Homo sapiens: one gene and its partners. The protein of the gene in region 6 purifies or fractionates together with the protein of the main gene of each other region. This does not show direct contact. Each region holds a gene or a part of one and is shown on either strand. Other genes may lie near its edges. The genes, in order: CUX1, TMEM9B, DNAJB4, DNAJA3, TTC1, SLC12A4 and CLGN.

What was found.
Region 1: the proteins of SLC12A4 (region 6) and CUX1 purify together in Homo sapiens (affinity purification with mass spectrometry; one large-scale study listed by BioGRID and IntAct). This does not show direct contact.
Region 2: the proteins of SLC12A4 (region 6) and TMEM9B purify together in Homo sapiens (affinity purification with mass spectrometry; 2 studies listed by BioGRID and IntAct, with this or other methods). This does not show direct contact.
Region 3: the proteins of SLC12A4 (region 6) and DNAJB4 purify together in Homo sapiens (affinity purification with mass spectrometry; one large-scale study listed by BioGRID and IntAct). This does not show direct contact.
Region 4: the proteins of SLC12A4 (region 6) and DNAJA3 purify together in Homo sapiens (affinity purification with mass spectrometry; one large-scale study listed by BioGRID and IntAct). This does not show direct contact.
Region 5: the proteins of SLC12A4 (region 6) and TTC1 purify together in Homo sapiens (affinity purification with mass spectrometry; one large-scale study listed by BioGRID and IntAct). This does not show direct contact.
Region 7: the proteins of SLC12A4 (region 6) and CLGN purify together in Homo sapiens (co-immunoprecipitation; 2 studies listed by BioGRID and IntAct, with this or other methods). This does not show direct contact.

What each region holds. Positions count from the first base shown.
Region 1 is NC_000007.14:102,195,126-102,198,625, forward strand, and holds part of CUX1 (Homeobox protein cut-like 1), read left to right. Parts: intron 1-381; coding exon 382-478; intron 479-1,508; coding exon 1,509-2,180; intron 2,181-3,500. UniProt on the Homo sapiens protein: May be involved in intra-Golgi retrograde transport.
Region 2 is NC_000011.10:8,950,943-8,954,442, reverse strand, and holds part of TMEM9B (transmembrane protein 9B isoform a precursor), read left to right. Parts: intron 1-1,105; coding exon 1,106-1,240; intron 1,241-3,500. UniProt on the Homo sapiens protein: Enhances production of pro-inflammatory cytokines induced by TNF, IL1B, and TLR ligands. Has a role in TNF activation of both the NF-kappaB and MAPK pathways.
Region 3 is NC_000001.11:78,007,939-78,011,438, forward strand, and holds part of DNAJB4 (dnaJ homolog subfamily B member 4), read left to right. Parts: intron 1-3,500. UniProt on the Homo sapiens protein: Probable chaperone. Stimulates ATP hydrolysis and the folding of unfolded proteins mediated by HSPA1A/B (in vitro).
Region 4 is NC_000016.10:4,432,368-4,435,867, forward strand, and holds part of DNAJA3 (dnaJ homolog subfamily A member 3, mitochondrial), read left to right. Parts: intron 1-2,016; coding exon 2,017-2,150; intron 2,151-3,500. UniProt on the Homo sapiens protein: Modulates apoptotic signal transduction or effector structures within the mitochondrial matrix. Affect cytochrome C release from the mitochondria and caspase 3 activation, but not caspase 8 activation.
Region 5 is NC_000005.10:160,036,639-160,040,138, reverse strand, and holds part of TTC1 (tetratricopeptide repeat protein 1), read right to left. Parts: intron 3,449-3,500; coding exon 3,336-3,448; intron 1-3,335.
Region 6 is NC_000016.10:67,951,638-67,955,137, reverse strand, and holds part of SLC12A4 (solute carrier family 12 member 4), read left to right. Parts: intron 1-364; coding exon 365-495; intron 496-2,712; coding exon 2,713-2,954; intron 2,955-3,100; coding exon 3,101-3,315; intron 3,316-3,500. UniProt on the Homo sapiens protein: Mediates electroneutral potassium-chloride cotransport when activated by cell swelling. May contribute to cell volume homeostasis in single cells. May be involved in the regulation of basolateral Cl(-) exit in NaCl absorbing epithelia.
Region 7 is NC_000004.12:140,389,649-140,393,148, reverse strand, and holds part of CLGN (calmegin precursor), read left to right. Parts: intron 1-437; coding exon 438-563; intron 564-770; coding exon 771-930; intron 931-2,420; coding exon 2,421-2,521; intron 2,522-3,500. UniProt on the Homo sapiens protein: Functions during spermatogenesis as a chaperone for a range of client proteins that are important for sperm adhesion onto the egg zona pellucida and for subsequent penetration of the zona pellucida.

The DNA of each region.
Region 1 (3,500 bases), on a different chromosome or scaffold from region 6:
AAAAAAAGAAAAGTTCCCTTTACAGTAACGTTCGGACAGACGTTTGTGGCTTGGCAGCCAGTCTTATGGCCAAATGAGGCACGGGCTCAGGTCGCTTGAGTTTGAGAACAGATGAGAGAATAATTAATTTTTTTAGGAGCTGTGGAAGTCTAAGAAGGAAAATGACTTCAACTAGAATCCATTCTTTCTAAAGGGAACTTGTTTTCCACGTGTGTTAAACGACTTGGGGGGAAATCAGCTGTCCGCAGCCCACTTCCTAATCAGATCGAGAGCTGGGTGGGAACGCGGACAGATGGAGGGAGGCAGGGCTCCAGGCCTGGTGGCCCCGGGAGCGGGTGAGTGGCCGGCCCCGCAGTGAGACCCCCGCTCTGCCCCTTCTAGGATGCGGCCAAGCCCCTGGAGGTGCTGTTGCTGGAGAAGAACCGCTCGCTGCAGTCCGAGAACGCCGCGCTGCGCATCTCCAACAGCGACCTGAGCGGTAGGTTGGCCGGGCTTCGCGCGTGTGCGGTGGTTGGTTCGCTTCCAGGGGTCGGTCGAGGACGAGGAAGGTGAATCGTGAGTCTGGACAGATGCATGGCCAGAGAAGCGCCGGTTGACGAGAACCTTTGACTAACGCGTGTTGGGTGCCCTCCTCCTCACCGCTCCTCCCTTCCCTTCCCCGCCCTGCTTAAAGCTGGATGTCGAGACGGGCCAGCCGCACAGGCTCTGCGGAGGTCAGTTAGGGGCAGTGCGGCTGGAATCCCCGGGAGGGACAGCTCGGAGGACGTCGGCCTTTCTGATCTGTGTCTGGTTGTGCTGCACAGAGGCCAGGGGCAGTGTGAACCCAGCCTCGCTCTGGTGGTGTTTTCAGGGACAGCCCCGGGCCTGCCGGGTCCAGTAGAGGTTTTTCTTCCTTGGTCAGGTTTCCCCTGGGGACGCGTCCCCCATCCTTAGCCTTTCTTGGCTCATCCCCCAAATGGTGGCGTCACTTGACTGTGCTTCTGGTTTGGGCAGCTGGTAAAACGCGTACAGGTGTCTCGGGCTCTAATGGTATTGCATTCTCAAAACGGGCGCGCGCCTCCACATCGAGGGGGCTCGGTACGGTGCATCGCCTCAGAGCAAGAGGTGCGAGCGAATCCATTGGTCCTAAAATGTCAGTGTTTGCTGCTCCTCCGGCCGGGGCCAGCGGGCCCAGTAAGAGGCCCGCGACCCGTCAACTCTTCCCTGTGTGTGTCACCAGCTCCTTGTCACGCTAGGAGTTTGAGTCTATGTCAAGGGGACTCTCCAGGCTGCAACGTACAAGAAAGGCGCAAACATGAATGCATGTTGCTTGTTTTGGGAAGCCTCGTTTGGCTGACTTACAAATTTAATCGGAAAACAAACCAACCCACCTCATTGGCCCTTGTAAAAAAAACCTGCACTTTTTTTTGTTTTCCCTTTTGCGGGGGCAAACTTTTGCATTTTGGTCTTGGTTTTTTTTTCCCCCTTTGGAATCCCCCATAATGCATTCTGTTTGCCCTTCCTTGTAGGGTCAGCCAGGAGGAAAGGGAAAGACCAGCCTGAAAGTCGGCGCCCGGGATCTTTGCCGGCCCCCCCTCCTTCTCAGTTGCCCCGCAACCCGGGGGAGCAGGCTTCCAATACTAATGGTACACACCAGTTCTCACCAGCGGGGTTAAGTCAAGACTTTTTCAGCTCATCCCTGGCAAGCCCCAGCCTACCCCTGGCTTCTACAGGAAAATTTGCACTAAACTCTCTTCTCCAGCGGCAGCTAATGCAGTCCTTCTACTCCAAGGCTATGCAGGAAGCCGGAAGCACAAGCATGATTTTTTCAACAGGTCCATACAGCACAAACTCCATATCTTCCCAAAGTCCATTACAACAAAGCCCAGATGTCAATGGCATGGCCCCATCCCCCAGCCAGTCAGAAAGTGCTGGGAGCGTCTCCGAGGGCGAGGAGATGGACACTGCAGAAATCGCCCGGCAGGTCAAAGAGCAGCTGATTAAGCACAATATCGGACAACGTATTTTCGGACATTATGTGTTGGGACTGTCTCAAGGGTCCGTGAGCGAGATTCTGGCCCGGCCCAAGCCATGGAATAAACTGACTGTTCGTGGCAAGGAGCCATTTCACAAGATGAAACAGTTCCTCTCCGATGAGCAGAACATCCTGGCCCTCCGTAGCATCCAAGGCAGACAAAGAGGTGAGAGACTGGCGTTGGGTGGCGCCAGCGTGCGAGCCCGTCACAGAGTTGCACATGTGTGTGTGCATGCGTGCGTGTGTCTGTGTGCGTGATGAAACATTTGTGCATCACATCAGGTAAAGTTCTCTTTGCTTCTGCCACGTCCAGAGCTCAAGGGTGGCCCGGCATGAGTTAAGGCTGTTAGATTTGGGAGATCTGGCCTTTGAAACGCACTCAGCACTCCATACTTAGGAAACCCTATAGTATTTCAATACTAGAGATCGTATCAGAGGGAATTGCATTACATGATGTATAGCGTCTCCGTATGCTTAGTGGCCGCGGGTCCAATTGGCCTTGGGTGCTGGTCTCACTTTTGGGAGGAGCCCTTAAGTCCCCTCCAGCCCCATAGCAGCAACGTTGACTGGGCTCGATCCTCATGCAAAGCTGGTTCTGTAGGGAGAACACATCACAGATGACACCTCCCCTCTTCCCACCCCGCAGAAGAGGGCGTGTCCCATGGCCACCTTCCCTACATTGTTCACGGTCCATTAGTGATTTGTTTAGCATTATGAGTAAAACAGGCCTGGCTTGAGTAAAATACACAAAAGTTTTATTTAAGCACCCTTTCTACCCCACCCTCCGTAAAAAGATAAAATGTCAGTCACATTCATAATTTCAAAAAATCCCAGCCGGGCACAGTAGCTCACGCCTATAATTCCAGCAGTTTGGGAGGCTGAGGTGGATGGATCGCTTGAGTCCAGGAGTTCAAGACCAGCCTGGGCAACATATATTTTGTAATCTTTTGATCTACAAAAAAATCAAAAGGTTAGCTGGGCGTGGTGGCGTGTACCTGTGGTCCCAGCTACTTGAGAGGCTAAGGCAGGAGGATGGCTTGAGCCCAGGAGGTGGAGGCTGCAGTGAGCCATGATTGAGCCACTGCACTCCAGTCTGGGCAACAGAGTGAGAACCTGCCTCAAATAAAAAAACAAAAAAGAAAGTTCCTTTTCTGTTTAAGACCAGGGGATCAATGTGCCACATCAACAGAGCTATTGAGAGGTCATTTCATCAGACATGTTTGAAACACCCTGAAATTTAGACTCAAACAGAGCAGGGAGATGTTTTGAACAGCATCAATTTGCACCAAGAAAATGCAGTGTTTTATGAGGATGTTAACCGAAATTGAATGTCTTTGGATGATTAATGCGAGCTTTGTTCTGGGGGCTGGCGGGTGATCCTCCTTCAAGGCAGTCCTCCCTCCCATGGACCTCCCTGGCCTCAATGCCGTAGGTCGCTACTTAGATTTCCCCCATCTCCTTTTGCAGCAGAGCCACGGCCTCTGCG
Region 2 (3,500 bases), on a different chromosome or scaffold from region 6:
GTGGCACGCACCTGTAGTCCCAGCTACTTGGGAGGCTACGGCATGAGAATCACTTGATCCTGGAGGCAGAGGTTGCAGTGAGCTGAGATCGTGCCACTGCACTCCAGTGAGACTCTGTCTCAAAAAAAAAAAAATAAAATCCAGTTTCAGAACATTCCCACTACCCCAAAAAGATCCCTCATGCCCATTTACAGTTAATTCCCATTTCCAGCCCTACTCGGTCACTAGTCTACTTTCTGTCTCTGCATACATGGACATTTCATGTATATGGAATCATATAATATATAGTCTTCTGTGACTGGCTTCTTTCATTTAGCACAATGTTTTTGATGTTTATGCAAGTTGTAGCATGTATCAGTACTTCGTTTCTTTTTATTGCTGAATAGTATTTCACTATATGAATATGCATTTATCAGTTGATGGACGTTTGGATTATGTCTGGGTTTTTACTATTATGAATAATACTGTTGTGAATATCTGCACATATGTCTTTGTATGGATATATATGTTTTCCATTCTCTTGGGTTAATTCCTTAGAATGGTAAAATTATGTTTAACTTTTTAAGAGACTGCCAGATTGTTTCCCAAAGTGGTTGTACCACTTTACATTCCCACCACAGCGTATGAGGGCTGTTTCTCCATATCCTTGCTAATACTTGGTATTGTCTATTTATTTTATTGTAGTCCTTCTAGTGGGTGTGTCACACTGTACTTTTTCTCAGTACATGAATTAAGGTCACAAGAAAAAATCACCGGCCTAGAAAATACTTTTGTATATCTAAATTGAGCTAAAGAGTAGCTGAATTTAGGACATTATGTTCAGCTGGGAAAAGAAACAAACTGCTGTGCTAGCAGTGGTGACAGGTGATTAGCAGTAGGTGAAGTTGGAGTCTTGAAGACTTGCAAAAAAATCCCAAAGATCTTTCCTCTTTTTTTCTTAAATAATACTTTGGTGAAGAGTTGAGTTTATTTCTTATATTGCTATCTGGTTTGTATAGAAATCCTATAGGCTTAGCAGATATGTCAGTCAGTTTTACTATTATCATACAAAGTTCTGATTTATGGGCTTGAACAAAGATGTAACTTAATTTTCAATTTCCTTTAGGTTACCATTATAATTTATCTCTCCATTTTGGGCCTTCTACTTCTGTACATGGTATATCTTACTCTGGTTGAGCCCATACTGAAGAGGCGCCTCTTTGGACATGCACAGTTGATACAGAGTGATGATGATATTGGGGTAAGTTCCCAGCCTGCCCTAGCTGCTCATGGCCAGTCCCTGTCATCATTCGATGTGAAGTGCAAGTGAAAAATAGTCATATATAGATGTTCACGTGCTGAAGCAGATCCTCAACTAGAGAAGCTAAAAACAGCTCTGATTTCAGTATATACCTCTTTATGAAGAAATTGCTTGATGAAGCCATAAATGTGATGATTTAAACGATGATCTTTGGTGAGCATGCTATACAGGGCCTTGCTTTCAGTACCAAAGGCACAATTTTATTGCCATTCCCTGTTTACATTGAGAAAAGTATCAGAGATGGTTTTCTCTCCAAGCTCTCCTGCCTGAAACACCTTCTCTGTCAATATCACCAAATATTTTAGAAGGCAGAGAGGTTTTCATCAAGGGAAGTGTGAAGATCATGATGTTCTTTTCTTAATGAAGTACAACTTGATAACCTGCTGATGTTTTATATTTCCTTTTTTTCTACTGCTTAAAAAAAAATCTGTGGGCCAGGTGTGGGGGCATACACCTGTAATCCCAGCACTTTGGGAGGCCAAGGTGGGAGGATCACTTGAGCCCAGGAGTTCAAGACCACCCTGGTCAACATGGTGAGACCCTGTCTCTACAAAAAATAAAAGCATTAGCCGGGTGTGGTGGTGCATGCCTGTGGTCCCAACTATTCAGGAGGCTGAGACAGGAGTGTCACTTGACCCCAGGAGTTTGAGGCTGCAGAACTGTGATCACACCATAGGACTCCAGCCTAAGCAACACAGCAAGAAGCCTGTTTAAAAAAAAAGAAAAAAAAAATCTGAGATCTTTAGAGAAAAATAAAACCATGACTACCATCACTCCAGATTCTCTTCCTGTCTTTAAATCTCTCACACACACACACACACACGTGTGTACATTATATATGTTTATATATATATATATATAGCGTGTGTGTGTGTGTGTGTGTGTGTGTGTGTATATAGTTGGCATAATCTGTATAAATTGCTTCATGGTCTCCTTTTTGTTTTAATATTCGTTTATTCAAAAATGTCCAGAAATTGACTTAGTCCACAAATCTGTTTTTCAGTGTAGCTTAGAGAATGTTTTTTTTGTTTTTTGAGACGGAGTCTCACTCTGTCGCCCATGCTGGAGTGCAGTGGCGTGACTTTGGCTCACTACAACCTCAGCCTCCCAAGTTCAAGCAATTCTCCTGCCTCAGCCTCCCAGGTAGCTGGTTCTACAGGCACCTGCCACCACGCCTGGCTAATTTTTTTTGTATTTTTAGTAGAGACGGAGTTTCACCATTTTGGCCAGGCTGCTCTTGAACTCCTGACCTCAAGTGATCAGCTCGCCTCGGCCTCCCAAAGTGCTGGGATTACAGGTGTGAGCCACTGCGCCTGGCTGGATATTTTTGTTTCATCATTACCCTGTATGAAATTGTTTCTGAATTTTCCTTTTTTTTTTTTTTTGAGACGCAGTCTCGCTCTGTTGCCCCGGCTGGACTGCAGTGGTGCGATCTCAGCGCACTGCAAGCTCCGCCTCCCGGGTTCACGCCATTCTCCTGCCTCAGCCTCCCAAGTAGCTGGAACTACAGGCGCCCGCCATCGCGCCCGGCTAATTTTTCGTATTTTTTTTTTCTAGTAGAGACGGGGTTTCACTGTGTTAGCCAGGATGGTCTCAATCTCCTGACCTCATGATCCCCCTGCCTCGGCCTCCCAAAGTGCTGGGATTACAGGCGTGAGCCACCGCACCCAGCTGAATTTTCCATTCTTTCATTATTATATATAATTATTTTTTTAGAAATTACTTTTTCTCGTGGATTATTATATTGGACTATGTTCCTTAAAATGGGTAAAATTCAGAATAGTTTTAAGGTTCAATTCAAAAGCCAAACCCAGAGTGAGCCCTTGCCAGCCAGTCAAAAGTCCTTTTACCCTGGAATGGCTCGTGCATCTATAGGCATAGACGTTGAAAGTCTTAAACGACATCCTTCCTTTACAGCGTTAAATATCTGTTCCTGATTTCAGAAATAGACAATATAATAACACAAAACATAAGAGAAATGGATGTAGAGATGAAAACATGTAGGGCAGGCATTTAATTGGTGGGATCACATGCTCAGTAATTGTTTTGTCCACCAGTGATTGATTCTGCTTGTGTATTGACTATTTGAGAACACTGTCTCTGTGAGGCCTGGCTGACTCTTGGATGTCTTTTAAACTGATTCTAGGCAGAGAGGTTTTCTGACCAGAGCTGTGAATTTATGGTAACAACTCTACAAAAA
Region 3 (3,500 bases), on a different chromosome or scaffold from region 6:
AAACTGAAAAGTATGTAAGTTGCATATGCTAAATTTATGTATTTAGGAGTGAAAGAACCAGTAATCCAGAACACAGTATATTTGTGTTCTGAATATTCACAATTTAAAATGCTTTGTTTTAAAAACAGTTGGCTAGCTGGGTGAGGTGGCATATGCCTGTAGTCTCAGCTAATAGGGAGGCTGAGGCTGAAGGATTGCTTGAGCCCAAGAGTTTGAGTCCAGCCTTTGCAACATAGCAAGACCCTACCTCTAGAAAAAGCAAAGGAAAGAAAAAAAATACGGATAACTCAAATTTACTTTTAGGAATCTATAAAAGGGAAACAAAAACATGTCCACACAAAGACATGTACCTGAATGCTTATAGCAGCATTATTTATAATAGCCCCAAACTGGAAACAATCTGAAAGCACCATAAATTGGTGAATTAAACAAAATGTGCTATATACATTCAATGAGGAACTATTTAGCAATAAAAGGACCAATTTGTGAAACATGCTACACCATTGATGAACCTCAGAAACTATGCTAAATTAAAGAAGCCAGATGTAAAAGACTATATATTGTATGATTTTATTTATGTGAAATGTCTGGAAAAGGCCAGTATATAGAAAAAGAAAGCAGATCTTTCTTGCCTAGGACTTGAGGTGGGAGCGGGGATTAGCTACAAATAAGAACTAGAGAATTCTTTGGAATGATGGAAATGTTCTATAACTGGATTGTGATGATGGTTATACAGCTCTATCAATTTACTATAATCAATTGAATTGTATTTGTACAATAGGTTAATTTTATATATGTAATAAATCTTTTTAAAAATAAAATTTCTCTATAGTTGAATCATTTGAAAACAAAAACCACAGAACTACAGAAATTTAAAATTGGATTCTGAACCACTCTCTAAAGTTTTAGGTTTAGTCTTGAATAGTTTAGTGGATGTCAACAAAAATTTGTGTTAAGAGATTTAAAAGAAAAGATTTTCAATAACACATCCTCATTTATTCTAGTTTTCTAATTTTTCTTTTTTTATGCTTTCCTTATTTTGTTATTGCATATGATTTATTCAGTAACTTCAAATATTAAAAGGTAGTGTTTAAATGATAAAACTTGTATTTATTAATCTTTATACTAGTTCTCTTCTGTTCTTTAACTTATATATTTAGCTAGCTGGATTTTTTTTAATTCACTGTGTGTTCTAAAAACATGTAAGTAAATTTGATTTTTGTGAATTAAAACTGTTTAAAAAATCTCAGAATCTCATTATTTGATAACTGAAGTCTTGCTGTAAATCTGGATTTTTACATATTAGATCTCCTTGGATGGAGTAAGAGTTATTAAAGTATTATCATGTTTTTTTCTTTGCAATCTGAATTTTTCTCCAGTGTTTCTTCTTTTGGAAACTTTTAGTCAACCTTAACTAATTAGTGGGAATCATTGTTATAGATAGTATTCCAAACACATATTTGGTTTGGGACTGCAAACTGGTTGACTGGTTAGTTGTAAAATAATAGCAGTCTTGCTAAATCATAGGCAAATGTTGCTTCTCTGGTGCGTTTTTTGATCACACAAAGTGATGACGATGTCTAGAAAACATTTTGAATAGCAGAGGGAATCCAATTGGATATTAAACATTTCCATTAGCGTTCAAAATGTACATGATTAAGAACTGACCATATAGTTAATGTGACATTACTTATAATTTTATGTGCTAGACAATGCAAGTGATACTTGCATAATAATGTATATTAAAGTGGCATGAATTTTGGTAGGATTTTTTTCTTTTTTTTGTTGTTTTTGAGACAGAATCAGTCTCCTGAGTAGCTGGGATTACAGGCGTGCGCCACCACGCCTGGCTAATTTTTGTATTTTTAGTAGAGACGAGGTTTCACCATGTTGGTCAGGCTGATCTCGAACTCCAGACCTCATGCTCCACCCACCTTGGCCTCCCAAAGTTCTGGGATTATAGGTGTGAGCCACTGTGCCCAGCCTAGGATTTTTTTCATTCATTAGAGTAGCTTCGTTCTTTGTCTGAGCTGCATAGTTGACTGTTTAATAGTGTCTAGGAAAACCTCAAAGCTGCATTGGAGTCTTTTTATCAGCTTTGGTAAGTTACTTCAGACTTTGTATGAATCTTCTCAGAGACTTTGTAATTATGACCGAATTGCCCTTTTTGGCAGAGGAGGAAGAGGTTTTCCAGAAAGCCAAACCCATGATGTAATAAATTAAAACATTATTCTTTCTTTTCATGAATTCATTATGGGTGCAAGTATTTAAATTTTGTCTTATAAGAGGCTAGATTGGGCAGGCTGATTTACCCAGTTTACTTAACTCAGTTAAATAATTATACTCCCTTAAGTCTATGGGATGAAGGATAAAATTATTTAAATAATTTAAGCATTGGTTGAGTCACTTTGGTCATGACCTTGAGCTACATATTATTCTATCATTAAAAAAAAAATCTGCCATTACCTTTTTAACATTTGGAGTTATAATTATACTACTAAAATTTATAAAAGGGAAATTTGGATGAGCTGCTTATGAAAAGATCTTGTCCTGCTTATACTTGTCATTCTACAAGGAATTTCCCTAACTGCTATTTGGATATATTGTTCAATACATATTTTGGCAATTTTCAGATTATTAGGTCTCTCTTGATCTCTCCAGATTTCTATTCATGGATGAAGGTAAAAATTTTAGATATCACTTGAGACCCTGTTAGATGAAATAGAGTAGATATATACCTTTTAATGGAAGAAGCCAAATGCAGAATAAGACGTAAGCAAAACTAAGTTTCTTTAAAGTATGCTGTGTGTTAGTGGCATTTTAAATTGTTAAATCTCTCATATATGTATATGTGTGATTATATTTTACATTGTTTTTGCTTCTGCCTTTTTCTCTGTACCGATACTCAAGACACCTTTTTTAGTTTTGATTTAGAAGGACTTTAGGAATTAGTTCATTCCCTTCATTCACTAAGCATGAATACCTACCATTTTCAGCCCTGTATGCATGAGCAGTGCAAAATAAATATATTTCCTGCCTTCAAATCACTCACTGTTTGGAGATATTAGAATCTCCTAGCTTAATCTGTTGGATTTTTCATAGTTTTATGATTTTTAGATTCTTTTCCTGCTTGTTTCTTGATCTGTATTGACCCCTTAAAAGATCACCATACTGTTGTTTTTTGAGTTTTAGTAGAACATTTCTTTCATAGTGGAAAATGTTGTTTCAAATATAATCTTTTGTGGGTTAAATATTACTTAGTGGAACCCTTAAGCAAAGGGTCAAAAAGTCACTATATTGTTGCCTGAGGTGGACTGTTCACAAGAGACAGAAATAACCCATATAGAGGCCTTACGTGTCAAAGTTTACAGCTCTTGATTTCAGTCTTCTTACAAGCATTGAAATTAATGCTAAGATGTGATATGCCTAAAAAATTTGGTATCTAGAGTAGGAATGACAATCGTAGTGTCTAAAAAACCATTTTTCATAGAATGTCCTCA
Region 4 (3,500 bases), about 64 Mb from region 6:
GTTTCACTCCTGTTGCCCAGGCTGGAGTGCAATGGCGCGATCTTGGCTCACTGCAACCTCTGCCCCCCAGGTTCAAGCGATTCTCTTGCTTCAGCCTCCTTACTAGCTGGGATTACAGGCATGTACCACCACATCCGGCTAATTTTGTATTTTTAGTAGAGATGGGGTTTCTCCATGTTGGTCAGGCTGGTCTCTAACTCCTGACCTCAGGTGATCCGCCCGCCTTGGCCTCCCAAAGTGCTGGGATTACAGGCAGGAGCCACCATACCCGGCCCGGCTTATTCACTTTTTAAACAGATTTCATCTATTAAAACACCTCCAGTCTGGGCGTGGTGGCACACGCCTGTAGTCCCAGTTACTTGGGAGGCTGAGGCAGGAGAGTCGCTTGAACCCAGCAGGCGGAGGTTGCAGTGAGCCAAAATCGCACCACTGCACGCCAGTCTGGGCAAGAAGAGCGAAACTCCGTCTCAAAAAACAAAGAAACAAAAAGCCTGCCGGGCACGGTGGCTCACGCCGGTAATCCCAGCACTTTGGGAGGTCGAGGCAGGCGGATCATGAGGTCAGGAGATCGAGACCATCCTGGCTAACACGGCGAAACCCCGTCTCTACTAAAAATATGAAAAAATTAGCCGAGTGTGGTGGCAGGCGCCCGTAGTCCCAGCTACTTGGGAGGCTGAGGCAGGAGAATGGCGTGAACCCGGGAAGTGGAGCTTGCAGTGAGCCAGGATGGCGCCACTGCACTCCAGCCTGGGCGACAGAGCGAGACTCCATCTCAAAAAACAAAAAACCTGCTCTTCCTATCTGTTAAGTGGATGAACTAAAACATCCTTGTTTCTTAAGCAGTTGGTGTCTTGCTATTAAAAAAGGTGCTGTGAATCCAGATCCAAAGTACAAAGTCATCCTAGTTAGTAACCGCCATTTGTTTTCCACTGAAAGTGGCAAATGCTTTCCTGGGCAGCTTAGCCAGTTTCTGCAGCTTAACAGCTGATGCCTAGAAGTTCTTCCCCGACCTTCTTAGATTGATTTGTCATTGGTTCTCAGCAGGGGACACTTTTACTTCCCAGGGGACATTTGGCAATGCCTGGAGACGGGGAGTTCTCTACTGGCATCTAGTGGGTGGAGACCTCCTGAGTTTCTGGTGAATGTCTGGAGTAGGGCTTGAACATCTGTGTTTTCATCAGTCTAATGATGCTGTTGGTCCAGGGAGCGCAGTCTTGAGAACTGCTCCTTAAGTAGATACCCAAGGCTGCAAGATAGAGGGAAAAGAATGTGGGGAGTTGTTAAGCATTAAATGTGACAGAAAAATATGAAAATATGAAAATACCTAGCAAATGGTAAGTGCTCATGTGGCATAAGAGGGGGGAGCTGAATCCCTTTTTAATCATCTCCCAGTCAGGAGTATTATTCCTTTAGTGGTTTACTGAGACCACTCCAGTAGTATAAGCGAGGAGAATCAGCCTCATCCAATACTCTGACATAGTTTAATATTAATTGAATACTGTGGCTTCCTTAGCCATTATTGAAGTGCATTAGGGAACAGCCCTAAAGCTGTAGCCTGTGTATTAGTCTGTTCTCATGCAGCTAATAAAGACATACCTAAGACTGGGTAAATTTTAAAGGAAAGAGGTTTATTTAACTCACAGTTCAGCACGGCTGGGGAGGCCTCAGCGATCGTGGCGGAAGGGGAAGCAAACACATCCTTCTTAACATGGCAGCAGGAAGAATGAGCAAAAGGGTGAGCCCCTCATAAAACTATCAGATCTCATGAGAACTTACTATCGCGAGACCAGCATGGAGGTAACCGCTCCTGTGATTCAGTTACCTCCCATCAGGTCCCTCCCATGACACGTGGGGATTATGGGAACTAAAATTCTAGTTGAGATCTGGGTGGGGACACAGCCAAACCTTATCAGTTTGTTTGTTCCTTCACAGATATAGCCTGGTGGGTCATGTACTCACAGTTTTCTTTTGTTGAGAACATTCCCAGAGTGATTTTCTTTGTTTTTTCCTTTTTAGGAACAAAACATAACCCTTTCATTTGTACTGCCTCCTTCCACACGAGTGCCCCTTTGGCCAAAGAAGATTATTATCAGATATTAGGAGTGCCTCGAAATGCCAGCCAGAAAGAGATCAAGAAAGCCTATTATCAGGTCTGTATGGAAGTCAGGTTTTGGTGACCAAATTGTAGTAGGAATGTTGTTGATCCCATGTGATCCTGATCAGTACAGCGTATGTGCCCATATGAATAGGTCTCATGAGCTGATAGTATAGAAGGGTGTGATAAAGCTGGACTTTGCTAGACTGTTTTTCGATGCACAATGCTGTAGAGGTTGGTGCTTCAGAAAAAAGAGGTGAGTCCAAACCAGAGATTTTAAGAAGTTTTTTTTTCTAGAGCTGTTTTCATAATTAAATTTAATCTGTATTTTCTGAATCAGTAGATATGCTAGTCTAAGTTTTAGGTAGTTATTTTTTGCATCCAGATAAAAGTTTAGAGGTTTAGAATTACTTCCTTTCCTTTCTTTTTTTTTTTTTTTTTTTTTTTTTTTTGAGATGGAGTCTCACTCCATTGCTGAGGCTGGAGTGCAGTGGCGCAATCTTGGCTCACTGCAACCTCTGCCTCCTGGGTTCAAGCAGTTCTCCTGTGTCCGCCTCCCAAGTAGCTGGGACTATAGGCACCTGCCACCACACCCGGCTAATTTTTTTTGTATTTTTAGTAGAGACGCGGTTTCACTTTGTTGGTCAGGCTGGTCTTAAACTCCTGACCTCAGGTGATCCACCTGCCTCAGCCTCCCAAAGTGCTGGGATTACAGGCGTGAGCCACCGCGCCTGGCCCTTTCTTAACCTGGAAAATGTGAAATTCCCATTGTATCCCAGGGTCTATTAGGGTAGTTAGGGTAGCTGAGTAAAGTTGTATACGAGATGTCTACACCACTGGTTCCTAGACCCTTGGTTTGCTCTGACCAACAAAATAAAATCAATATTGGAGGCACCATTGTAGGATTGACAGCTTTTTATAAGTGCACAGTTCACTGGAGTTGTGCACCTGTCACCACAGTCAACTTTAGGACATTTTCATTACCTCGAAAAGAAACTCTGTATTCATTAGCACTCCCCTTCCATTGTCCTCTCTCCCCGGTCCCTAGCAGCTGCTAATCTGCGTCCTGCCTCTTTGGATTTGCCTATTCTCAATATTCATATACAGGGAATCATACAATATGTATCCTTTTGTGTGTCTTGGCTTCTTTCATTCACATAATGTTTTCAGGGTTCATCTGTGTTATAGTTTGTGTCAATACTTCATCCCTTTTTATGGTCAAATAATCTGTTGCATGGATTAATCACATTTTGTTTATTCATCGTTTGATGGACATTTGGATATTTTCCACTTTTTGCTATCATGAACAGTGCTGCTATATAGACATTCATATGTAAGTTTTTGTGTAGACATGTTTTCAGTTCTCTTGGATATTTAGGAGTATAGTTGCTGAGTCATATGGTAA
Region 5 (3,500 bases), on a different chromosome or scaffold from region 6:
AATTCAGTGCAGAAACATGCTGTACAGGTTTGTAGCCCAGGAGCAATAGGTTATACCATATAGCTTAGGTGTGTAGTAGGCCATACCATCCAGATTTGTGTAAGTATACTCTATGATGTTTGCACAATGATGAAATCACCTAATAACACATTTCTCAGAATGTATACCCGTTGTTAAGTGACTCATGACTGTACTTTAAAATGGCCAACTTTATGTTATCTGTATTTTACCACAATAAACAAAACAAAAAAGGTTTCAGGGTCATCTGGGACCTTTTTTTATTTCTCTTTCAATGTTCAGCATACCAATTCAAATATCAAAAACTCTAAGAAGTCCTGTAAGTAATCTGTATAACTTTATATAAGTCAATATTTTTTCAACTTATCACATTTCTATAAGTCAAAGACACACAATTTCACAGTTTCTGAAATAGAAATAAATCTTTACAATTTATGTGTACAACTGTTGTGATGGTATTCTTTGTGTGCCTAGAAGTGATTATTAAGCTGTAGTGCATCTTATCCACTGTCTCCTCAAATCAAGGAATTATGGAATTTTATTGCAGAAACTTTTGTTTGAGGCTCATAGTCTACTAATACCTCAGAGGACCCAGGTGTTGTCTGCTGCTTACAATGGTAGTCCCCAAAGTGGAGTGTGTGGGAAAAAAAAAAAAATCACAACTTTACCATTCTTTCATAATTTTTATATATAGGTAGCTATCTATCTATATAAAACAGTATACATAATATATAGTGACAAAACAAATGTACACAGCATATAAGGACAAACAAATCTAACTATACATATAAAACAATGTATATAATATATAAGGACAGTAGTTAAAAAAAAAAAAAAAAAGAGAACCTACTCTTTTAGGGCTCTGCTCTTGTATAGCTAGCGAGACCTAGAGCTGAAACTCTGCCCTAGCTCCAGGTTACCTTTTCTCTCTCCAGATATGAAATGTGAAGCGTGGCCAGGGGCACTGAGTCAGGGATGCTGAGCTTGCAAACCTGCCTTTCAGAAATTCTTCATCTTTACCTCTTAAAGCAGTTAAACCATCATTTCCTTGAAAAACTTAGAATATAATATGCTCCTTAAATTGTGTCAGGGTACTAATCCTAGAAGTTATCAAGTCTCTCATTTTAGAGTCTTCATAAAGTATTAAAAATGCAACTTAAGGCCGGGGACGGCGGCTCACGCCTGTAATCCCAGCACTTTGGGAAGCTGAGGTGGGCGGATCACGAGGTCAGGAGTTTGAGACCAGCTTGACCAACATGGTGAAACTCTGTCTCTACTAAAAATACAAAAATTAGCCTGGCGTGGTGGCGCGCACTTGTAATCCCAGCTACTCAGGAGGCTGAGGCAGGAGAATCGCTTGAACACGGGAGGCGGAGGTTGCAGTGAGCCGAGATCACACCACTGCACTCCAGCCTAGGTGACAGAGTGAGACTCCGTCTCAAAAAAAAAAAAAAAAAAAAAGAAACGCAACTTAAAAGAACAGAAAACTTCACCAACAAAACTATTCTTTGAACAGGCAACAATCATAGAGCAACGCTCTTTTGAGTTCTCCTCAGATGTGACAGACAAAATACTAACAAGACCATACATTTTCCTAACTCAAGAACCAGACTATTTATGTGAGCCCAAACCTAGAAATATCAATAACTTGGGCAACTGTAGAAACAAAGAATCCCAAATCCCAGGAGCCAACTGGGTATGGTGCATTTCCTCTGATACTGAAGGCACATCCTTGATCCTATTTCACAATGACAATGTCCAGTCTAAAAATGTGGCAAAAGGGAGAAGCAAATCTAAAAGATCAGAATTTTCCAGGTAAGTGTAAAAACTGTTAGATGTTAATTCTGATTGCTGGTGGGACACATTAATGAATATTGTTTTAAATAAAGTTAAACCAATTGTTTTGTTTTCTCTAATACAAAATGTTGGTTTGTATACTATAAAATTATTTCTTCTCTCATGCCACATGAAATACTCCAAAAATACTCTGCTTTGAAGATTGAATCTTACACAAGTTCTGGTAAAAAAAAAAAACCGTAACCTTTCTGCATGTCCAAGCATTCAAGCACCCACCCCCGCAACCCTGCCCTGGGGCCTTTAAAAAAAACAACAACAACAAAAAAAACCTTGTCACCTAAAGTGACTGTGGTAGAGGCATTTGAGAATTTCAGACAGTATCAAAGAGATATCTGATCTAAACAAACAAATGAAAACACTGCCACTTCCAATCTTGAGCCAGCATCATGGTTGCTTAAAGGTATGTTAAATAACCTATCCTTTGTACTTTGGATGTAAGTAGCCATAGTTTAAAAAGTGGTATGGTTTAAAAAAAAAAAAAACCACTCTCATTTCAATCCAAGGATTATGAAGACTAAATCGGAAAATCAGACAAATCAGAAACAAATCTAACTTTTTTTTTGAGACAGAGTTTTGCTCTTGTCGCCCAGGCCAGAGTGCAGTGCACTGCAACCTCTGCCTCCAGGCTTCAGCGACTCTCCTGCCTCAGCTTCTTGAGTAGATGGGATTACAGGTGCCCACCACCATGCCTGGCTAATTTTTGTATTTTTAGTAGAGATGGGGTTTGACCATGTTGGCCAGGCTGGTCTCGAACTCCTGATCTCAGGTGATGTGCCCGCCTCGGCCACCCATAGTGCTGGGTTTACGGGTGTGAGCCACTGCATCTGGCCCAAATCTAACTTTTAATAAGGTCATGGTATAAAACAAATATATTTGTACTCTCACCTATTCCATACTCACCTTGTTATACTAGGTTCTCAGTCCTTTGGAAATACAAAATGTTTTCAAAGTTCCTTGACACCTATTTTGCATTTAAGGGTACCTTTTATCCCAGCTGTTGGAGATTTCTCCAAGTGTCCATACTTTGAACAGAAAAGTCAGAATCCTGGGAATAACCATCTTTAAAGATGCTTTAAAGCCCAGAGTTTTTACCAGTGTTTCCCTGTGCCTTTGCATGTTTATCTAGAATTCCAGAGGCCTAAAATAAGGATCTAGAGCTATTCTAGGACATGCACTGCTTGGCTCATTGCTTCATTAACCTGACCTAGTTTAGCAAAAAATTTGCCAGCCCTCCTTCCATGAAAGTATTCACTCAGCTACTTTAATGGGGAATGTTAACAGTAATCTGACTCAAGTTTTTCAAAAGATTTTCTATTCTCCCTGTGGCCTTTACATCAGGGAAATATATGGGCAGGAAAAGGGAGGCAGCAACCTCTATGCTAGTTTCTGGAGAGAAACTATGGTATGAAAAGACTGCAAGTCCATGTGCTTTTTAAAAAGAAAAGGTCACAGATACATACCTGTTTCATCCTTGCTGCAGCTCTATTTGAAAATAGAATCGACCTCTCCTTTTGGAAGCAGGATGGGCACATTTCGAGGGCTCGACTATAAGAACTTTCAGCTTCTATATAATCTGAGGATAAGAGAAAGGATGAATGGTCATTTTGATTTTATTCCTGATACTA
Region 6 (3,500 bases):
CAGGCCTCAGGAGGGTGAGGTGGGCTGAGATAGGACACACCCAGCCAGAGGAGGCTGTGGGCTGTGCACAGGGCATTGGAGGATGGTGGCCAGTCAGCCACTGCTGCAGACTAGAGCTGCTCCCGCAAAGCAGTTATTTCCACGGGCCGTGCTGGACATTCGAGTCAGATGGGGATAGGATCGAATGTCAGCCTAGATGCTTACCCACCGTGCAGCCCTGGGTAGGTCTCCCAGCCCCTCTACTCATCCACAAACAGGAAAAGCAGTCCCTGTCCCTCTGGGTGGTTGTGCAGGCTTGTCACAGGGAGACCCCTTGAAGAAGAACCAGCCTTGACCTGTGCACACTTTCATTTCTCTGCTGTAGCTGGGGGCTCCTATTTCATGATCTCTCGTTCACTGGGGCCAGAATTTGGAGGTGCTGTGGGCCTGTGCTTCTACCTGGGAACAACATTCGCAGCAGCCATGTACATCCTGGGGGCCATCGAGATCTTGCTGGTGAGTCAGGCTGAGCCCTGGCCAACTCTGGCCATGTCCAAACAGTCCCTTTGGACTCCAAACAGAAGGCTCAGGCTGTTCATCCCCACATGTCTGGCCAAGGCCTGGGTATTATAAAGTAGGAAGCCTCTTCGAGAGACAAAGACCTTTACTCAGGCTGGTCTTCCTTTCACCTCCATGCCAGTTTGGGCCAGGCAAGGCAGAGGCCTGGCTGCCTTCACCTCGGCCCTGGATGTTCCATCCACCTGGGCACCATTGCAGCCATGGCAAGGGTTCCAGGAACTGTTGTATTCAGCTCAGTGACAGATCTTGGTGGTGATGTAGGCTTCCTTCTGGGCTTGTGTGAGCTCTGGCCAGCTCTGTGTCCTCCGGGGCTCTGTGCCAGGGCACTTCAGATCCACCTTCTCCTTGTCCTTCAATCAGGGTAAGCAGCCACAGAACCCTGCTGGAGGTCGGCGCTCCCTCCACGAGCCCCATGGGAGCTCTGTCAGCCTCAGCTTCTCATTCCCCAGTGAACTGCCGTACCAGTGGGAGAAGAGGCAAGGAGCTGCGGGAGGCATGGGGTGACAGGTGCCCGCCCCTGGGGATCCAGAGGGTAGGAGATACCTGGAGGGACTGCCTGGCTGTTCTTGTCTCCAGGTCCTCTACCTGCAGCAGGACCCTGCACCTGAATCTTCTGATTTGGGGGGGCTTTGGCTTGTTTTCATTTCTCATATCCCTTCTACATTCATTATGTGGGATTTGTCCCTTCTCCTGTTTATCTATTCAGCCATGTCATTATATCTGTATGGACTTCTGGATATTTACTTTATTCTTTGGGTTGTAATCCAATACTATCATTATTTATTTTCTTGCTCAAACTGTTCCACTTTGGCTATTTAACGATTCAGGTTGGCATCTATGTTTGGATCCTTTTTGTTTGCTTGTTTTTAAGTAACAGCTTTATTAACATATAATTTACATACCATGCAATTCCCATACCAATTTATATACCATTGAAAGTGTACAATTCAATGTTTTATAGTATATTCACAGAGTTGCGCAGTCAATTCTAGAACATTTTCATCATCCCAAGAACCCCCATTAGCAGTCACTCTCCATTCCCCGCCAGCCCTGGCAACCAGGAATCTGCTTTCTGCCTTGGGATTTGCCTATTCTGGGCATCTCATATAAACAGAATCATATAATATGTGACCTTTTGTGACTGGCTTCTTTTAGGTACTCTTATTTTTTATTTTTATTTATTTATTTGTTTTGAGATGCAGTCTCACTCTGTCGCCCAAGCTGGAGTGCAGTGGCATGATCACAGCTCACTGCAATTTCCGCCTCCTGGGTTCAAGTGATTCTCCTGCCTCAGCCTCCCGAGTAGCTGGGATTACAGGCTCATGCCACCACGCCCAGCTAATTTTTTGTATTTTAGTAGAGATGAGGTTTCACCAAGTTGCCTGGGGTTGTCTCGAACTCTTGAGCTCAGGCAGTCGGCCTCCCAGAGTGCTGGGATTATAGGCATGAGCCATTGCGCCCGGCCTATTCATTTATTTTTTTGAGACAAGGTCTCACTCTGTCACCCAGACTGGAGTGCCGTGGTGTGGTCTCTACTCACTGCAACCACCACCTCCGAGACTGAAGTGATTCTCCTGCCTCAGCCTCCCGAGTAGCTGGGATTACAGGCGTGTGCCACTACTACCAGTTTTTGCACCACTAATTTTTGTATTTTTAGTAGAGATGAGGTTTCACCATGTTGGCCAGGCTGGTCTCAAACTCCTGACCTCAAGTGATCCACCGCCTCAGCCTCCCAAAGTGCTGGGATTACAGGCGTGAGCCACGGCGCTGACCTATTTTTTATTTTTTTTTGAGACGGAGTCCCCCTCTGTCACCCAGGCTGGAGTGCAGTGGTGCGATCTCTGCTCACTGCAACCTCTGCTTCCTGGATTCAGGCGATCCTCCTGCCTCAGCCTCCAGTTGCTGGGATTACAGGCACGTGCCACCACGCCCGGCTAATTTTTAGTAGAGATGGCGTTTCCCCATGTTGGCCAGGCTAGTCATGATCTCCTGACCTCAAGTGATCCCCCACCTCAGCCTCCCAAAGTGCTGGGATTACAGGCGTGAGCCACTGCGCCCGGCCTCTTTTAGGTACTCGTAAAAAGAAAACCAAAACGACAAGTTTCACTTTCCAAATAAGAAATAAAACCCTCCTTATCCATCTTCTTGTTTCAGACCTACATTGCCCCACCAGCTGCCATTTTTTACCCATCGGGTGCTCATGACACGTCGAATGCCACTTTGAACAATATGCGTGTGTATGGGACCATTTTCCTGACCTTCATGACCCTGGTGGTGTTTGTGGGGGTCAAGTATGTGAACAAATTTGCCTCGCTCTTCCTGGCCTGTGTGATCATCTCCATCCTCTCCATCTATGCTGGGGGCATAAAGTCTATATTTGACCCTCCCGTGTTTCCGTAAGTAACCCAGGAATTTATCTGGGCATTGCATGGACATCCCTCCCATGTAGCCAGCCTTTGATGCCCCAGATCCCAGAGACTGCAGGGTGGGCACAGGCAGGGGCTTTGACCTGAGCAGGTGCCGGTGCTTCTGTCCCTCACAGGGTATGCATGCTGGGCAACAGGACCCTGTCCCGGGACCAGTTTGACATCTGTGCCAAGACAGCTGTAGTGGACAATGAGACAGTGGCCACCCAGCTATGGAGTTTCTTCTGCCACAGCCCCAACCTTACGACCGACTCCTGTGACCCCTACTTCATGCTCAACAATGTGACCGAGATCCCTGGCATCCCCGGGGCAGCTGCTGGTGTGCTCCAGGGTGGGTCCTCCCTCCCGTCGTCTTGCTCTTGAGCCCACAGGCTGAGCAGGGGCACAGAGCACAGAGCTGTCCTTGTGTGGCCAGCTTGGGAACGGGGGCAGGACTGGCCGCCTTCCCAGCCCCCCAGTGTCCTCCCAGCCTGGCTCCTGGCAGCCGAGTTTGGAGTGAGTGGAGCCTGTCTGGCC
Region 7 (3,500 bases), on a different chromosome or scaffold from region 6:
ATGTGTGAAATGTGTTTATATAAAAAAGAAAACAATTCTGAGGTATGATTTTTAGTAAGTTCTTTAAAAGTACAGAATGAATGATCAGAGTACAGAATGAATGATCACTTCAAATAAACCAGGTAATACATCCATAAAAGGTAGTTCTATTCTGAAATTTACCAAAAAGGAAAATTACCATTTTTCTTGCCAGTATGTTAGAAGTTTCCACTTTTGTCATAACATACCTTCTGCTATCAAGTCTCACTCAGTGATGCATGCTAATAATTAAATTAGACTTTACAAAGTATAAGGTGGGAAAATGAAACTTCTTTTACTTACGAGTTCATCACTCCTTAATGTAAAATGCCTGAGTAAATAAGTTTTTTTGTATCTTGTGTTACCCAGTAAAGGTTTGTAAAATTTGAATTGCATTTTTATGCTTATCTCGTCTATAGCCTGGTGTATTAAAACAGTTAATGGCAGCTGCTGAAGGGCACCCATGGCTTTGGTTGATTTATCTTGTGACAGCAGGAGTGCCAATAGCATTAATTACTTCATTTTGTTGGCCAAGAAAAGTAAAGGTAAAGAAAATGGATTTCCTTCAACTTTTTTCACCCAAATTTCTTGTTGTTTAAGAGTTCTATAAATTAAGCGATTCTTAAAAGTAATAAACTAAATGTCTCATAAGTTTTACTGATAGTTCATTATGTATGTTATCAATTATTGCAAAAAAACTTTCAAAATAGCACTCTGCCTTTAGTAAAAATAACTTATGTTAACTACCACAGAAAAAACATAAAGATACAGAGTATAAAAAAACCGACATATGTATACCACAAACAAAAGGAGTACTAGAGCAAGAAGAAAAGGAAGAGAAAGCAGCCCTGGAAAAACCAATGGACCTGGAAGAGGAAAAAAAGCAAAATGATGGTGAAATGCTTGAAAAAGGTAAGATGATGAGAGTGATTTATAATGGAGACTCTGGGTAAAGCTCATAAAACTGTATATGGCCTTGAAATAACTAGTTATTATACTTGTTTATTATCAAGTTTATACATCTGAATCTCCCAAGAATATGTGACTGTGGCAAGAAGGAATAATAGTCCTCTGAGCAGCCACCCTGTTTATAGTTTTTGCATTCTAGGAAGAAGGAGATTTAAATAGTGTTCAGTTGCTTGAGAGCCTAGCAGTTAATGAATCCCATAGGCCATAGCTTTTTGCAAGGATGTTTCTTGGCTCTGGGAGTGTAGAAGATGAGATGGAGGGTGATAGAGGGTGTATATCATGGCCTCTGTAGAAAAGGAATAGATATAAAACAGATGATTGCAGCAACAAAATCAACACCAAGTCTTCCAACAGCTATTGTTAGTCAGATGCTTATCATATAGAAGAAATAATTTAATTAATTTTCTGAAAGGATTGCTGAACCTATATCCCCTTCTCACCCTATGTTAAACTCTTGAAGATGTTAGAACTGAAGTCACCCTTTGGTGGCTGTCCGCTGAGACCTCCTTACATAAGGTAGAAATAAAACTATTGATTTGCCCAGTGTCCCAAGCCAAATGTCTTGAAGCACAGTGTTTAACTCACTTAATGAAACAGTTGACTTAAAAACACATATGTGTCTATCTATTTTTTAAGAGACAGTATATATATATATACACACATATACATACACATGTTCATGTGTGTATTAGGATAGGTATCTAAAACAACAAATGTTTCAGGTTGTAAGTTTCCAGCCTTGTTTTTGTAACTTCTTAGTGCTTAGTATATTGATGTCTGGATCAGCCTTATTTAGAGGGAATTTAAGTATCGGAGGGGCCTGCTTGTATAAAGGTACTTTCACCACTTTCATCTATACACGTAGTCCCACATTGGAACTACGTAGAAGAAGTAGAGTTGATTTTTCAACTTCCCTTTCCCCAAAGCCCATTCTTGGTAGGGTAGGAGTTTTTACTTTATATAGCTCCTAGGACGTGCTTAATATCTTTTGGTTAATAATGATGACAAAAGTTGGAGGTTCTGCTAAATGGAATCCTAAGGAGGGTCAATAACTGAAAAAATGCATGATGTCCACAGAGAACAAACATAAGTAAATAACATATTGAAGATTAAAAGATCACCAAAAATTAAAGGAAGTATTTTCCAAGACAGGAACACAGGAAAGATTATTATTTTTTGGTTTTCATATTACATACAGACTGAATGCTTAAGAATTTTTTAAACTTGTCCCCAAACTCAAATATGATTCATTTATAAAATATGATAATATAATGAGTATTTATAATTTTTAAAATTTTGAATGGAAGAAGTTGCTTCTAAATCTTGGAATAAATCTTGGAATTTAAATAAATCCCATTTATTGTATTTAATACTTTTCAGTAGCAAAATTCTAATTTATTGAGTCTTTGCTTTTAACAAAATCTGTATTCTAGAAGAGGAAAGTGAACCTGAGGAAAAGAGTGAAGAAGAAATTGAAATCATAGAAGGGCAAGAAGAAAGTAATCAATCAAATAAGTCTGGGTCAGAGGATGAGGTAACAGAAAATAAGCTGGTTTCTATGTATAGTTGTTATCCATAAAAAGTTTTTTCAATAAAAGCACCAATATGATTTATGAAAGAATTTTTGCCATATTTCTCTCAGCTTTTATAAGAGCCTCTATATTGTTTTTAAAACATATCCATAAGGAAGGAAAGAAAAATACTGTAATTTATATTGTCTCAATGCCTAGTAAAACAGTATAGAGCAAGCCTGTGGCGTACAAAATATAAAGATAGAATACATGTATCCAAAATTATGACTTTCTCATTGAAATTCTATTGAAAAGCATAATAAACACATTGTTTGAATATTTAAAAGATAATTATCATTATTATAATTTTTATAGCTGTTGTAAAACATCTTTATTGTCTCAACATTTTACTCTCACGTTTTAAAATATTTCATTCATTGGGTAGTTGAGTACTATCTGCCTGATAGGGTATTTTTCTCAAATCTTTAGTGAACTTTTCTCCCCCCTTATTAGTCTACCCCTTTTTGTGTCCTGATATAAAATGGAACTTTGCACAATGCTTTTTTTTTGTAAGTTATTATGGAATGAGAAATCCCGAGTATAATTAGAGCCAGAGCTGTCTTTTTTCTTTTTTGTTTTTAATCCAGCATAAACCAAAAACCAGTTTTCTCTGGCCCTTAAAGAGCTGGGTAGCCTTACCCCACAGAGTCACCATCCTAACATATTACATTCCAACTATGTAGGTAGGATAAAAGTACAGTTCTGCCTGCTCTTGCATGTGATGAAATGAATTTTGTATTTTATCTATTTAAAGAAATCCTCCAAATAAATTTGCAATTATTGTTAAGTCTTTCCTAATGTTTAATCAGTACACATACTGTTTGCTGGTCTTCCTGCCCTCTGAGTTTTTATAGGGACTTTGGGACCATTATTTAGTATGAATATCCATATTTAGGGAGAGCTAGGTGAAGAGAATTTCTTCCAGAGCCAAGTTTTAAATAA